2 separate regions of the Homo sapiens genome follow, and region 2 is linked to region 1. Evidence: fine-mapped expression QTL. Tissue or cell type: monocytes. Region 1 holds a variant in brackets; the other region holds the start of a gene. All regions are shown on one strand. Distances are between the middles of the regions.

Region 1 (8,105 bases):
CCACTGTGCCTGGCCAGTTCAATTTTAGGTACAACTTTCTGTCAATTTGAGTGCTCAAAATGAAATTTAATACTAGCCTGGGCAACATGATGAAACCCTCTCTCTATAAAAAAATGCAAAAATTAGCTGGGCATGGTGGCACACACCTGCAGTCCCAGCTACTCAGGAAGCTGAGATGGGAGGATCACCTGAGGCTGGGGAGCTTGAGGCTGCAGTGAGCTGAGACCACTGCACTCCAGCCTGGGTGACAGAGTGAGACCTTATCTCAAAAGAAAAAAAAATGGAATTTGATCCACAATTATGTTGTCATTTTTATTGTTGCTGTTGTTTGGGACAGGATCTCGAACTGTCACCCAGGCTGGAGGGCAGTGGTGTGATCATAGCTCACGGCAGCCTTGAACTCCTGGGCTGAAGCCATCCTCAGTCTCCTGGGTAGCTGGGACTACAGATGCGTGACACCATGCCTGGCTAATTTATTTTATTTTTTGTAGAGATGAGGTCTTGCAATGTTGCCCAGGCTGGTATGATCTCCTGGCCTCAAGTGTCCTCCCTCCTTGGCCTCCTGATGTACTGTGTTAGCCACCATGCCCAGCCTATTGTCATTTTGTATAAAAATATATGTGTGGTGCTGGTTGAAGGAAGTGTGTTTTATCATATTCCACGTGTACAAAACCCTCCTATTAAAAACACATGGAGGCTGGGCGCAGGGGCTCACGCCTGTAATCCCAGCACTTTGGGAGGCCGAGGCAGGCGGATCTCGAGGTCGGGAGATTGAGACCATCCTGGCTAACATGGTGAAACTCTGTCTCTACTAAAAAAATACAAAAAATTAGCTGGGCATGGTGGCGGGCGCCTGTAGTCCCAGCTACTCGGGAGGCTGAGGTAGGAGAATGGCGTGAACCCAGGAGGTGGAGCTTGCAGTGAGCCGAGATGGCGCCACTGCACTCCAGCCTGGGCGACAGAGCGAGACTCCATCTCAAACACACACACACACACACACACACACACACACACACACACAGAACCTGACAATGGTTGCCACAGGGAGACTGAAGAAGGGTGGGGAATGGCCCGCCCAGCACACTCTTTTGTTCTGCATGTATTTTATTTTATTTTATTTTATTTTATTTTACGTATATATATTTTTTCTTTTTTCTTTTTCTTTTTTTTGAGACAGAGTCCCACTCTGTTGCCCAGTCTGGAGTGCAGTGATGTGATCTTGGCTTACTGCAACCTCCACCTCCCAGGTTCAAGCGATTCTTCTGCCTCAGCTTCCTGAGTAGCTGGGACTACAGGCACGCACCACTAGGCCTGGCTAATTTTTGTATTTTTAGTAGAGACGGGGTTTCATCATATTGGCCAGGCTGGTCTCGAACTCCTAACCTCGTGATCTGCCCGCCTCTGCCTCCCAGAGTGATGGGATTACAGGCATGAGCCACCGCGCCTGGCCACACCCGGCTAATTTTTTTGTATTGTAGTAGAGACTGGGTTTCCCCATGTTGGCCAGGCTGGTCTGGAACTCTTGACCTCAGATGATCCACCCGCCTCGGCCTCTCAAAGTGCTGGGATTACAGGCGTGAGCCACCACGCCCGGCCTTATTTATTTATTTATTTTGAGACAGGGTCTTGCTCTGTCTACCAGACTGAAGTGTGGTGGCGCGATCTCGACTCACTGCAACCTCTGCCTCCCGGGTTCAAGTGATCCTCCTGCCTCAGCTTCCTGAGTAGTTGAGATTACAGGCACGTGCCACCAGGCCCAGCTAATTTTTTTGTATTTTTAGTAGAGAAGGGGTTTCACCATGTTGGCCAGGCTGGTCTCGAACTCCTGACCTCAATTGATCCGCCTGCCTCAGCCCCCCAAAGTGCTGGAATTACAGGCGTGAGCCACCATGCCAGGCTCTGCGTGTATTTTAATATACAATAAAACAAAAATAAAGGAATGTCCTAACAGTTTTTCTGACTTTGACAGCACTTAAACAGGGTCTTGTCAACCAGGAGGCCCAAATTTTTCTTTTTTTTTTTTTTTTGAGAGGGAGTCTTGCCCTGTCGCCCAGGCTGGAGTGCAGTGGCATGATCTCGGCTCACTGCAAGCTCTGCCTCCCAGGTTCACGCCATTCTGTTGCCTCAGCCTCCCGAGTAGCTGGGACTACAGGCGCCCACCACCATGCCCGGCTAATTTTTTTTTGTATTTTTAGTAGAGACGGGGTTTCACCGTGTTAGCCAGGATGGTCTCGATCTCCTGACCTCGTGATCCGCCCACCTCGGACTCCCAAAGTGCTGGGATTACAGGCGTGAGCCACCGCGCCCGGCCCAGGAGACGCAAATTTTTAAAAGGAATTCCTACTTTGAGTAAGGATGGGGTCCTGATGGTATCACTAAGTTCCCTATTAATTTAGAGATGCTATTCGTAGGTTATTAGGTAGAGGCAGAAGAGGCGAGAGAGGCAAGGGAAGTGAGGTTGTCTTGTTCTGCCCCGTTTCCTTCCAGAGGAGGGGAGAAAAGGGCCTTCTCCTCTCAGGAGCACAGCAATGCTGGATGAGCAGTGCTTGTTGGACCGAGGCAGGAGAGAAGGCGCGACCCTGTGTTGGTTTTTTCCTTATGCTTTTCTGCTTGTGCATTTAATCCCTTTTTCAGTTTCAAATCAGCACCATAGCAGATCTTACCAACAAACATTATCCCTGTCCTGAAGCAGTTGTCAAGCCAGGGAGAGACATAGGATCCACTCTGGGGAAATGCCACCCTGGCTTTGGCTTCTGGAGGCTGCAATTACCTGTTAGGAGAGGTATCAAATTCCACTTCCCGAGGCTGCAGTGAGCCGAGATTGCACCACTGCACTCCAGCCTGGGCGACAGAGCAAGACTCTGTCTCAAAAAAAAAGAAAAAAAAAAAAACTCCACTTCCCTCTTTGCCCACAGAAGCCAGTGTGAAATCCCCTTCCCTTGCATTCCTTTGGGCTGGTCCCATTGAGAAAGAGGCTGGCACTGGACAAGGAGATGAAAGCAGACTGCCCCAGCTACAGTGTCTCACCAAGCTCCTTCCAGCTGCTGTGGCCCTGTCCAGGTCTGCTGACCTCTGGTGATGGCCAATGCCATCTTGCCTCCTTAGCTCATGCCCACTTTGGCTGAGTTACTGTGGCCCAGGCTTAGAATGCTGTGTTTTGTTTTGATGCCTAACTCTTCACAGTCCTTTTTATAAGGTCACCTGTCTTGCTTGAATCTTCAACTTGGTGCTGCTGACACCCCTGATGTGACATATGCTGTGCACAACTCCAGGTCACAGAGGGAGTAAAAAACAAGTTCTTTCCTACCTGATGAAATACCTGATTACTTTATGCTTTGCATAAAGAGACATTTGCCTCAGGGAACAAATAAGACATAAATACTGAAAATGGGATTGCCCTTTAAAAAGGAGGATGTCTGCTCAGTCTAATTTGGGGAATATCTCTTTTATCTCCATTGTTCAGGCTGAATACACAGTTTGTGAATTAACCTGATCTTTTCCTTTATCTTGCTTGGCCATCTGCCTTGCTTCTCAGTTATTTAGAAAGTACTTTAATAGCATCTTCACCAATGACTAAAGAAACAGAAAGTGACATTAAAAAAAAAAA[G/AG]GCAACCCTGTATTTTGTTTATTTACTATTAGCTTGTTTGGTAAGAATAAAATTTTCATAAGGATTGAGCTTGATATCTCTGAAAATGGCAGACTAGATAATGAGGAACCACCCTTCCACTGAAAACAACTGCAAGGCAGCAGAAAATCTAAGAATAATTTGCTTTAAGGCATTGGGGGAGCTCACAACACAATAAAGAATTAAAGAGTTACAGGACTGAGATCCACAGAAGTAAATCCAAGAAGATGAGCCCAGCTTTAGGGCTACTGTTCTCCCAGGGCGTTTAATGAGGTCTCGAAAGATTGAGAAGCTGAGCAGATGTTTCAACAGCCTGGTGAGGAGGACCTACAAATGAGAGGAAATCTTGGGGGAAAAAAATCATGCTTTGGGTTGGGAAACTCAAGGGCTAGACCCTAGGAATAAGGGTGAACTAAAGCCCAGCTTCCAACCATCTCAAGGCCTATATTAGATTAACACTGGAATTACCAGTGTCCCCAGGCTCCTGACAAAAGCATATGTAGATCTTCCCTAGCAAAAGGTAACATCAGAGTAGACTCAAATTATTTCTTCAATAATTAAGGCAATTATTACTTCTACTTATTTGACTCCTCATGAGCCTATTTATTTTTTATTTTTACATTTTTACAGAATGTCTTGCACACAATGAAAAGTAAATAGGAAGGCCAGGCGCCTGTAATCGCAGCACTTTGGGAAGCTGAGACCGGTGGATCACTTGAGGTCAGGACACCTGTAGTCCCAGCTACTCGGGGGACTGAGGCACGAGAGTCACTTGAACCTGGGAGGCGGAGGTTGCAGTGAGCCAAGATCGCTCCATTGCACTCCAGCTTAGGCGACAAAGTGAGACTCTGTCTCAAAAATAAATAAATAAATAGGTTCATGAGGAGTAAAGTAAGTAGAAATAATAATTGTCTTAAGTATTGAAGAAATAACTTGAGTCTACTATTGTGTCCGGAATTGGTGGGTTCTTGGTCTCACTGACTTCAAGAATGAAGCCGTGAACCCTCACGGTGAGTGTTAACAGCTTTTAAGGCAGCTTGTCTGGAGTTGTTCGTTCCTCCTGGTGGGTTCGTGGTCTCGCTGTCTTCAGGAGTGAAGCTGCAGACCTTCGCGGTGAGTGTTACAGCTCATAAAGGCAGTGTGGACCCAAAGAGTGAGCAGCAGCAGGATTTATTGCAAAGAGCGAAAGAACAAAGCTTCCACAGTGTGGAAGGGGACCCGAGCGGGTTGCTACTGCTGGCTCGGGCAGCCTGCTTTTATTCTCTTATCTGGCCCCACCCACATCCTGCTGATTGGTAGAGCCAAGTGGTCTGTTTTGACAGGGCGCTGATTGGTGCCTTTACAATCCCTGAGCTAGACACAAATGTTCTCCACGTCCCCACCAGATTAGCTAGATACAGAGTGTCGACTGGTGCATTCACAAACCCTGAGCTAGACAGAGGGTGCTGATTGGTGTGTTTACAAACCTTGAGCTAGATACAGAGTGCCGATTGACGTATTTACAATCCCTGAGCTAGACATAAAGGTTCTCCACGTCCCCACCAGACTCAGGATCCCAGCTGGCTTCACCCAGTGGATCCTGCACTGGGGCTGGCAGGCAGCTCCACTATGATGTTATCTTTTTTTTTTTTTTTTTTTTTTTTGAGGTGGAGTCTCACACTATTGCCTGGGCTGGAGTGCAATTGCGCCATCTTGGCTAACTGCAACCTCTGCCTCCTGGGTTCAAGTGTTTCTCCTGCCTCAGCCTCCCAGGTAGCTGGGATTACAGGTACACACCACCACACCAGGCTAATTTTTTGTCTCTCTACTAGAGACAAAATTTTTGTCGTCTCTCTACTAGAGATGGAGTTTCACTATGTTGGCCAGCATGGTCTCAAACTCCTGACCTCGTGATCCACCCACCTTGGCCTCCCAAAGTGCTGGGATTACAGGCGTGAGCCACAGCACCCGGCCATGATGTTATCTTTTGCTAGAGAAGATCTACATATGGTTTTCGCAGGAGCCTGGGGACACTGGCAAGTCCAGTGTTAATTTAACATAGGCCTTGAGATGGTTGGAAGATGGGCTCTAGTTCATTCTTATTCCATTCAATATTCAACACATTCATTCTTTATTGTTTTTGAGACCGAGTTTCAGTCTTGTTGCCTAAGGCTAGTGTCCAATGGCACGATCTCAGCTCACTGCAACTTCCGCCTCCCTGGTTCAAGCGATTCTCCTGCCTCAGCGTCCCCAGTAGCTGGAACTACAGGAACACACCACCATACCCGGCTAATTTTTGTATTTTTAGTAGAGACTGGGTTTTTTGTTTTTTTGTTTTTTGTTTTTTTTTGAGACAGAATTTCACTTTGTTGCCCAGGCTGGAGTTGCAGTGAGCCGAGATCGTGCCATTGCACTCCAGCCTGGGCGACAAGAGCAAAACTTCGTATCAAAAAAAAAAAAAAAATTTCTTCATATTTGAGTTCATGTCCCATATACTTTGTAAAACCAGGTTATTTGCTGTTTTTGCTTTGCTATTGAATTGTAGGAGTTCTTTATATATTTAGAAATCAACCCTAATCCAGTGTTCACTGTAGCATTATTCAGAATAGCAATGCTATGGAAGCAACCTAAATGTCCATGGATGGATGAGTGGATAAAGCAAGGGTGGTATATACATACAATGCAATATCGTGGAGCCTTAAAACAAAAGGAAATCCTGCAATATGCAAGGACATGGACAAAACTGGAGAACATTATGCTAAGTGAATTAAGCTAGTCACAGAAGGACAAATACTGCATGACTACATGCATATGAGACATCTAAAATAGTCAAACTCAAAGAATCAGAGAGTAGAATGATGGCTGCCAAGAGCTGGCGGAGGGGGAATGGGGAGCAGCTAATTAACAGGCATAAAGTTTTGATGATGGGGGCTGAGTGAGTTCTGGAGATCTGCTGTGCAACATTGTCCCTATAGTTAACAGTACCCTATCCAGTACCCTATCCACTTAGAATGTATTAGGAGCGTAGCTCTCATGTTAAGTGATCTTATATTAAAATAAAGTTTTTAAAATTTTACTTTTTCTTCAATTCATTTTGAAGTTTCTGCTTTTTTTTTTTTTTTTTTTTTTGGAAATGGGGTCTTGCTCCTGTGGCCCAGGCTGGAGTGCAGTGGCATGATCTGTGTTCACTGCAACCTCTGCCTCCTGGGTTCAAGTAATTCTCCTTCCTCAGCCTCCCCAGTAGCTGGGATTACAGGCACATGCCACCACCCCTGGCTAATTTTTGTACTTTCAGTAGAGATGGGGTTCCACCATGTTGGCCAGGCTGGTCTCAAACTCCTGTCCTCAAGTGATCCGCCCCCCTCAGCCTCCCAAAGTGCTGAGATTACAGGCATGAACCACTGTACCTGGTCTGAAGTTTCTGCTTTCAACACAATTTTGTGAAATTAGAAGGGAAGATTCTGCTCTCAAAGAGGTTATAGTCTTTTTTTTTTGCCCACTGCAACCTCTGCCTCCCGGGTTCAAATGATTCTCCTGCCTCAGCCTCCTGAGTAGCTGAGATTACAGGCGCCCACCACCACGCCCGGCTAATTTTTTGTATCTTTAGTAGAGACGGGTTTCACCGTGTTGGCCAGGCTGGCCTCGAACCTCTGACCTCGTGATCCGCCTGCCACGGCCTCCCAAAGTGCTGGGATTAGAGGCATGATCCACCACGCCTGACCTGAGGTTATAGTCTTATCAGAGAGACATTTAGGGATTTTTTTTTTTTTTTCAGATAGAGTCTCACTCTGTCTCCCAGGCTGGAGTGCCAAGGTGCGATCTCGGCTCACTGCAACCTCTGCCTTCTGGGTCCAAGCAATTCTCCTGCTTCAGTCTCTCGAGTAGCTGGGAATACAGGCACCTGCCACTACACCCAGCTAATTTTTGTATTTTTAGTAGAGACGGGGTTTTACCATGTTAGTCAGGCTGGTCTCAAACTCCTGACCTCAGGTGATCAGCCTGCCTCGGCCTCCCAAAGTGCTGGGATTACAGGCGTGAGCCACCGCACCCGACCCATTTAAGGAATTTTTAAAAATACAGCAAGGTAGACTGACTGTTGAAGTTGCAGTGAAACTGACAACTGCTATTCCTCCGGTTGCATTTGCCATTTCATCGTTCTAATCTATACTGTCACTCCATTTCCCAATTTCCAATTGACACCCTTTGGATGTACATTTTGGGTTGATGCCTGAGGACATTTAAAAATAGTTTAGTGCTGAGCATAAGCTAAATATATTCCCATAATTCCTATGCTAATCAATTATTTATCCCTTACAAATGCGAAGATCAAAAATGAAAAAAAGTTATATATTTCAGTTTGACAGGAGGTCTTGGGAGACTAGCAAGAATAAAAAATACTTTCAAGTCTAAAGTGAGTAAAATGGGTAAAAATGAGCTTCCCAACTCAGTTATACTTTAAACAAGGCAAAGAATACTCTTTTGCCACCAGTAATTAAAATTA
Region 2 (8,105 bases), 670 kb after region 1:
GCTCAAGTCCGTCAGTGCAGAGCCATACAACTAATACCCCTACCTATAGGGTTAGAAATGGCCACTGCTACAGGAACTGGAATAGCCAGTTTACCTACTTCATTATCCTACTACCACACTCTCAAAGGATTTCTCAAGAGAGTTTGCAAGAAATAACAAAATCTATCCAGTAAGGATAGTAACTACAATTCCAAATAGACTCTTTGGCAGCAATGACTCTCCAAAACCACCGAGGCCTAGACCTCCTCACTGCTGAGAAAGGAGGACTCTGCACCTTCTTAGGGGAAGAGTGTTGTTTTTACACTAACCAGTCAGGGATAGTATGAGATGCCACCCAACATTTATAGGAAAAGGCTTCTGAAATCAGACGCCTTTCAAACTCTTACACCAACCTCTGGAGTTGGACAACATGGCTTCTCCCCTTTCTAGGTCCTGTGGCAGCCATCTTGCTATTACTTGCCTTCGGGCCCTGTATTTTTAACCTCCTTTTCAAATTTGTTTCCTCTAGAATTGAGACCATCAAGCTACAGATGGTCTTACAAATGGAACTCCAAATGAGCTCAACTAAACTTCTACCAGGACCCCTGGACCAACCTGCTGGCCCTTTCACTGGCCTAAAGAGTTCCCCTCTGGAGGACACTACAATTGCAGGGCCCCTTCTTCACCCCTATCCAGCAGGAAGTAGCTACAGCAGTCATTGGCCAAATTCCCAACAGCAGTTGGGGTGTCCTGTTTAGAGGGGGGGGATTGAGAGGTGAAGCTGGCTGTGCTTCTGGGTCGGGTGGGGACTTGGAGAACTACTCTGTCTAAAGGATTGTAAATGCACCAATCAGGGCTCTGTGTCTAGCTAAAGGTTTGTAAACACACCAATCAGTGCTCTGTGTCTAGCTAATCGGGTAGGGGACTTGGAGAACTTTTCAGTCTAGCTAAAGGATTGTAAATGCACCAATCAGTGCTCTGTGACTAGCTAACTGGGTAGCAGACTTGGAGAACTTTTCTGTCTAGCTAAAGGATTGTAAATGCACCAATCAGCGCTCTGTGTCTAGCTAAAGGTTTGTAAACGCACCAATCAGCACTCTGTAAAAACCGACCAATTAGCACTCTGTAAAACAGACCAATCAGCACTCTGTAAAACAGAGCAATCAGCACTCTAAAATGGACTAATCAGCTCTCTGTAAAATGGACCAATCAGCAGGATGTGGGTGGGGCCAAATAAGGGAATAAAAGCAGGCCACTGGAGCCAGCAGCGGCAACCTGCTCGGGTCCCCTTCCATGCTGTGGAAGCTTTGCTCTTTCATTCTTTGCAATAAATCTTGCTGCTGCTCACTCTTTGGGTCTGCACTAACTTTATGAGCTGTAACACTGACTGTGAAGGTCTGTGGCTTCACTCCTGAAGTCAGTGAGACCACAAACCTACTGCGAGGAACAAACAACTCTCGACATGCCACCTTTAAGACCTGTAACACTCACTGCGAAGGTCTGCAGGTTGACTCCTGAAGTCAGTGAGCTCATGAACCCACTGGGAGGAAAAAACAACTCCAGACGTGCCACCTTTAAGAGCTGTAACACTCACTGCAAAGGTCTGCGGCTTCATCCCTGAAGTCAGCAAGACCACGAACCCACCAGAAGGAAGAAACTCTGGACACATCTGAACATCAGAAGGAACAAACTCTCGACATACCATCTTTAAGAACTGTAACACTCACCGCGACAGTCCGTGGCTTCATTCTTGAAGTCAGCGAGACCAAGAATCCACTGGAAGGAACCAATTCCGGACACATTTACGCAGCAGCCACGTCAGACTGGGACACTTCCTGCTTACAGAGGACTATAAAACCCCTTCCTCACTTGGGGCTGATGCTATTATAAAACCCATTCCTCACTTGGGGCTGATGCCATTTAGGCATAAACCCGTCTGCACCCAGGCGCTTATTAAAACAGCATGTTGCTCCACACCGCCTCATGTCGTGGGGGTTGTTGGTGCGTCATCGGGGTTCAAACCAATACAAGAGCCTTGCAGGTTGTTTGTAGCACTAACAAAGGATAAATGCTTGAGAAGATGGATACCCTGCTTATCCTGATGTGATTATGCATTCTATGCCATATCAAATATCTCATGTACCTATAAATACATATGCCTACTATGTACCCACAAAAATTAAAAATAAATTTTTTTGAGATGGAGTCTCGCTCTGTCACCCAGGATGGAGTGCAGTGGCGTGATCTCGGCTCACTGCAAGCTCTGCCTCCTCGATTCACGCCATTCTCCTGCCTCAGCCTCCCAAGTAGCTGGGATTACAGGCGCCTGCCACCACGCCCGGCTTATTTTTTGTATTTTTAGTAGAGACGGGATTTCACCGTGTTAGCCAGGATGGTCTTGATCTCCTGACCTCGTGATCCGCTCGCCTTGGCCTTCCAAAGTGCTGGGATTACAGGCGTGAGCCACCGCACCCGGCTAATAAAAAAATTTTTAAAGAGATTTATTCTGAGCGAAATGAGTGTCTATGGCCCATGACACTGCCCTCAAGAGATCCTGAGAGCATGTACCCAAGGTGGTGGGGGCACAGCCTAGTTTTATACATTGTAGGGGAACATGAGTCTTCAATCAAATACAGGTATAGACTAGTTCGGGCAGGAAAGGTGGGACAACTCAAAGTGGCGGCTTCCAGGTCATGGGTAAGATGAGAGACAAACGGCTACATTCTTTTGAGCCTCTGCTCTGCCTTTTACTGAACACACAATTTACGCCATGGGGCAGGCAGAGGAATAGCCACTTGTGCCTTAGTCTGGCTCAGTGAATCTGCATTTTTACATAAATACAGGGCAGAGGAAGCCGTCAGACATGCATCTGTCTCAGGTGAGCAGAAGGATGACTTGAGTTCTGTCCCTGTTCCTCACCTGCGAAGACAAGCTGTCAATTTACACTGCCAGGGTGCAATTCCACACAACTGTTTCAGGGTAAAGATGTGGAGGTCCACAGCGAATTTCCTCCTGGCCAAAGGGTGAGGGAGCTGTGTGGCTTTTTATCTTTGCAGCTGTCTTAGGAACAAAACTTAGGGGCAGGTTTGCCTGACGCAGCTCCCAGCTTGACTTTGGCTTAGTGATTTGGGGTCCCGAGATTAAATTTCCTTCCACACTATTCTCCCTAGTTTTGTGTATGTGTGAACTATTCTATTTCTGGGCACTTTTAATTTTAAAAAGTGGACAATACTGATCTGGACTTCATTTTAGGAAATGCTGGGGGAGGCTGCAGGATCAGGTGTGCCTCCGTCCTAAATACGCGAAAACGAGGCCAGCGCCCTGGTCCTCGCCCCCACGCCCGCGAACAAGCCTCAGGAGACGCTGGGGGAGGCGCGGGGGCAGCGGCGTCTCCCGGAGACACGAGCCTCGCCCAGGGGGCGTGCGGGAGCCCAGGACCCGCGGGGAGCCAGGCGCTGCCCCGCCGCCGCCCCCAGCCTGCCCAGGCCCCGCGCGCCGCCGCCGCCGCAGCTCTCGAGGTGCTGAGGGACGCCGGGAGGCCGCCGCCTAGAGGGTACTCACCGCCTTGCCCGCAGCCCAGGATCGCCGCCTTCTGGGACTCGGGCTGCGGCATCTTCTCTCCCGCCACAGCCCCAGTCCGACCCGCAGGAGCGGCGCGGGCTGAACTGCCCCGGGGCCCAGCAGCCAGGCGTCGCGCAGGCGCTGGGCGCAGTGGCGGCCGCGCCTCCTCAGGCCCAGGGCCCTCGCCCAGTCCCCGAGCCGCTGCCTCCGCCCAGCGCCGCGCGTCCGCCGGCGCCGCGTGACAGGCGGCCCCGCCCCCGCGCCGCGGTGACGAAACCTCTCGCTGCCCTGACGTCACCGGCCGCCGCGCGCTGAGTCCTCCCTAGCGTTCGCGCAGAGGCGCCGCGCGTGGCCTGGCTCCTGTTGTCTGTCACCCGCGGTCTCAAAAGACCCCATTAATGACAAATGCCCTGCCTGTGGCCCCGGCTACTCCGGAGGCTGAGGCGGGAGCAGCGCTTGAGCCCGGGAGCTCTGCGCTGTATGCGCTGTGCCCATTGCGCGGCGACACGCATCTGTGTTCCGCATCGGTGTGGTGACCTCCCGGGAGCAGGGACCACCAGGTTCCCCAAGGAGTGGGGAACTGGCCCAGCTCGGAAACCGGGCAGGGCAAAACTCCTGTGCTGATCGGTAGCGGGATCGCGCCTGTGAATAGCCACTGCCCTCCAGCCTGGGCAATACAGCGAGACCCCATAAGTGAAAAAAAAAAAAAAAGACAAATGCCCTTAAACATATTAAAAGAAGTTAAACGCCACTTGTGATAGAAGAAAATGTAGATTAAGGTGTAAAGAGAGAAGTGGTGAAAAAAACACTCATACCTTGGTGATAATAGTGCAATGTATACAAATACCATAAAAGGGGAATTGGCAATTTTTAAGAAAAATGGTGTGGGCATTCATCTTTGGCCAATAATGCCAAGTTATATTGAAGAATATCTTAATACTAATCTTCTTTGCATTTCTGAAATAAATCCCACTTGGTTAAGAATATTTTTGAACTTTTTTAAAGAACTCATTGCTTCACAATTAAAGTCTGATGGGGTACACGCGTAGCAATGGAGGAACTTCTACAGCTACTATAAATTAAAGAGCACCACCTGAACCAAAGTAGTGGCCTTCTTGAGCTGAACTGAGCTAACCACATTCCCCAGCCCCTCTTCCACAGATACCCCATGGGGTTGTCAGGGTGTAGGGGATGCCATGTTGTACCACCCAGGTTTCCCCTTAAGGACTGAGGACTCATTTCTCCAGTTGTTGGGTGTGTAGGCCGCTGATGGCCCCCAGCTGAGTCTTGTGGCCACTTCCCTCAGCCAAAGAGAACTGCTGCTGGGTGCCAAGTTGAATGCTTTTGACTCCTTCTACCATGCTTGTGTCTTGATTGGAGATTGACAGATATTTCAGGTACTGGTTTCTCTTGCAAGGGCAGTGCAGACAGCACACAGGTATCTTTGCCCAGTTTCCTTCAATGGTTGCAGCTCATGTAAAATATACATAGTATAATATCAAATAAGCGTCATTGGGGATCAATCCTGCTGGGATCCCCCTCAGAAACTATTCACAGCAGTGGCAGGCAAACTAGGGCAAAGTCTACTAGGTATATTTAAAAGTGTATTACAAGTTTATTTAAATACATAAATATGTTTCCAGAAAGTAATCCTTCCAACTACCTAAACTAGTAATGAAAAATGTTAAATATCACCTTAAATATGTATAAGGGGATACTAAGTTCTTGTATTTAAACCTTATTATTTTAGTATATACTCAAGCAAAAGAGTTTGAAGACCAGACCTTTAGGGCCTCACTACTCAAATGGTGGTCCAGCAACAAGCGACACCAACGTCACCTGGAGTGTGTTAGAAATGGGGAGTCTTGTGCTCCACCTACTTAATTAAAATCTGCATTTTTACCAAGATTTCCAGGTGATTTATACACAAATTAACATTTGAAATCATGCTCTAGGATTAATCAGGGCATGTAAATTTCCATTGTTTCATCTTCTCCTGACCCTTGATAGTATCAGATATTTAAATATTTGCCAACCTGATGAGTATGAGATGCATCTGTTTATTACTTTAAATACTATTCTACCTGATTAATGTGCAATAATTACTTAACCATTATTCTCGTAATTGAGGATTTGGGTTAGCTCCAATTTTTCACTATCATACAGAATGACACTAAAATGCTCTTTTCAGCGTATCATTCTGGTTAAACACAATCTTTGAGGCCACGCTGATTAGGATCATGTAAGGGCCGTGTTATTGTTTGTCCTTGGATACAGTTGCCAGATGAAATACAGGATGGCCTGAAATTTGAATTCCAGATTAAGAATAATTTTGTGGTTTAAGTATATCCTGTGCAATATGTGAGAGGCTTGTCTTCATCTGTGCTGCCATAATAAAATACCTGAGACTAGGTAGTTTAAAAACAAATTTGTTTTCCCACTCTCCTGGAGGCTGGGAAGTACAAGATCCAGCAGCCGTATCTGGTAGGCTGCTGGTGAGGGCTTTGTGCTACATCATAACGTGGCAGAGAATCGGAAGAGGAAGCGCGCACTGGCTAAAGGGGCAATGTTACTTATTAACAACCCGCTCTCAAGGTACCTAATCCAGTCTCAAGAGACTGGGAACTCTCAGTGACTGCGTTAATCTTTTCATGGGGGGCTGGTCCCTCATGGCTCAAATGCCTCTTAAAGGTCCTACTCTGTCTCAACACTGTTACCCTGGGGTCCAAGCCTCAACATGAATTTTGGTGGGGATAAAAGGTATTCAAACTGTAGTGCTGTTGCTTTGTCAGTTGTTTCAACATGAATTATGGAAGACACATTCAGAATGTAGCCATATGTACAGTAAAATGTTATTGTCTATTTGAAATTCAAGTTTAACCAGGCATCCTGTATTTTTATTAGCCAAATAGGGCAACGTTAACCTGGGCACATTCTAACCATCGTTTTCTCATCTATGAAATGAGGATAGCAGTAGAACTCATAAAGTTGTTGTATGAATGAAAGGAGATAATCCATGCAGACTACTTATAACAGAGTATGAAACGTAGTAAAAGCTCAGCAAATGTCAGCTCTTCTTAGTTGTTGTTTCATACAGGTGTGTCTTGGGATAAATTCCTAGAAGGATGTTTTAGTTACAGAACTCCTGGGCTTAATTTCAGACTTGTTTGAGCATTCCATCATACCAAAAACTGTTTTGTAAGAAACCCTAAGCAGGTTACCAGATACTTTTCAACTAGCTTCAAAATACAAATCAGATTTTTAAATTTCCACACAAAAACAAAAAATTGCCATCTATAGGCAAGTATCAATTTCCCTTTAATCACACCAAATATTTGGATATTGATTCTGATTTCTTTTCTATTTTAGGGTCAACTGAAGCAATATTTAAGAAGATACTGTCCAAGGGACATGCTGAACAATTTCTAGGACTTATCTGTGTTATCTAGTACCTAAACTAAATTACATTACAAAACTAAGACTTAATATTAGGCCCACGGCTTTTAACAAAAGAGAACACTCCTGTCTTTTGCTTTTGGGAAAGCTGATATTTACAGCATCCATTCTTTATGCTTACCAGAAAAAAAATATACTTTTTAATGTTACATATATATCATTTATATATTACATATAATAATTATATATAACATATATATATTCTCAAATTTCAACTAGAAAAAAACTGTTACTTTAAGAAGATACTCCATATTTATACTACTATAATTCTCTTTTATTTTTTCAGCTACAAGATTTCTATTTTGCTTTTTGTTTGTTTGTTTTTTGAGACAGTCTCTGTCACCCAGGCTGGAGTGCAGTGGTGTGATCTTGGTCTTGGTCTCGGCTCACTGCAACCTCCACCTCCCATGTTCAAGCGATTCTTGTGCCTCCCAAATAGCTGGGATTACAGGCACGTGCCACTGAGCCGGGTTCTGTTTTGCTTTTTTTTTTTTTTTCCTGACGGAGTCTCACTCCGTCGCCCAGGCTAGAGTGCAGTGGTGCAATCTCAGCTCACTGCAACCTCTGCCTCCCAGGTTCAAGCAATTCTCCTGCCTCAGCCTCCTGAGTAGCTAGGATTACAGGCGTGCGCCACCATGCCCAGCTAATTTTTTTGTATTTTTAGTAGAGACCGGGTTTCACCATGTTGGCCAGGCTGATCTCAAACTCCTGATCTCGTGATCCACCCGCCTCAGCCTCCCAAAGTGCTGGGATTACAGACGTGAGCCACCGCGCCTGGCCTGTTTTGCATTTTATCATAATTTTAGTAGACTCATGGGTTTATTATGATTAATTTTTAAATGACTTTCTAGAGGCAGGAAAGGTATAAATAATATATGGGCCAAGAATACAATCAAGCGTGGCACTCGTTTTGTGCTGCCAGATCAACCTTTTAAAGGATCAATCAAGTGGCTGTCTGTAATAGATCAGCTCATGTCTGTCTAGCAATAGATTTTATGCAGTATTTTGCTAAATAGATAGGTATAAAGGGGTTATTTGCGGCCGGGCGCAGTAGCTCACACCTGTAATCCCAGCACTTTAGGAGGCCGAGGCGGGTGGATCACCTGAGG

Direction of the effects. Positions count from the first base shown, and alleles are read on the strand shown. Sizes are in standard deviations (SD) of each study's normalised expression.
As copies of AG replace G in region 1, the expression in monocytes of the gene that starts at base 3,751 in region 2 goes down (moderate effect, 0.50 SD a copy in Quach 2016).

What was found. PIP is the estimated chance that this variant, and not a neighbour inherited with it, causes the effect.
Region 2: GALNT11 starts here. The variant in region 1 is fine-mapped to the expression of GALNT11 in monocytes (Quach 2016, PIP 0.94).

Annotation. Positions count from the first base shown.
Region 1 is chr7:152,694,656-152,702,760 of GRCh38, reverse strand. No RefSeq gene overlaps it. Among named protein-coding and RNA genes, the nearest start is that of XRCC2, 23 kb to the right of the region's middle. The variant G/AG (reference allele first, on the strand shown) is at 3,608.
Region 2 is chr7:152,021,320-152,029,424 of GRCh38, reverse strand. GALNT11 (polypeptide N-acetylgalactosaminyltransferase 11) reads right to left here and starts at 3,751. Exons shown (of 12, transcript NM_022087.4): 1 at 3,541-3,751. RefSeq lists silencers at 3,217-3,916, 4,767-5,061.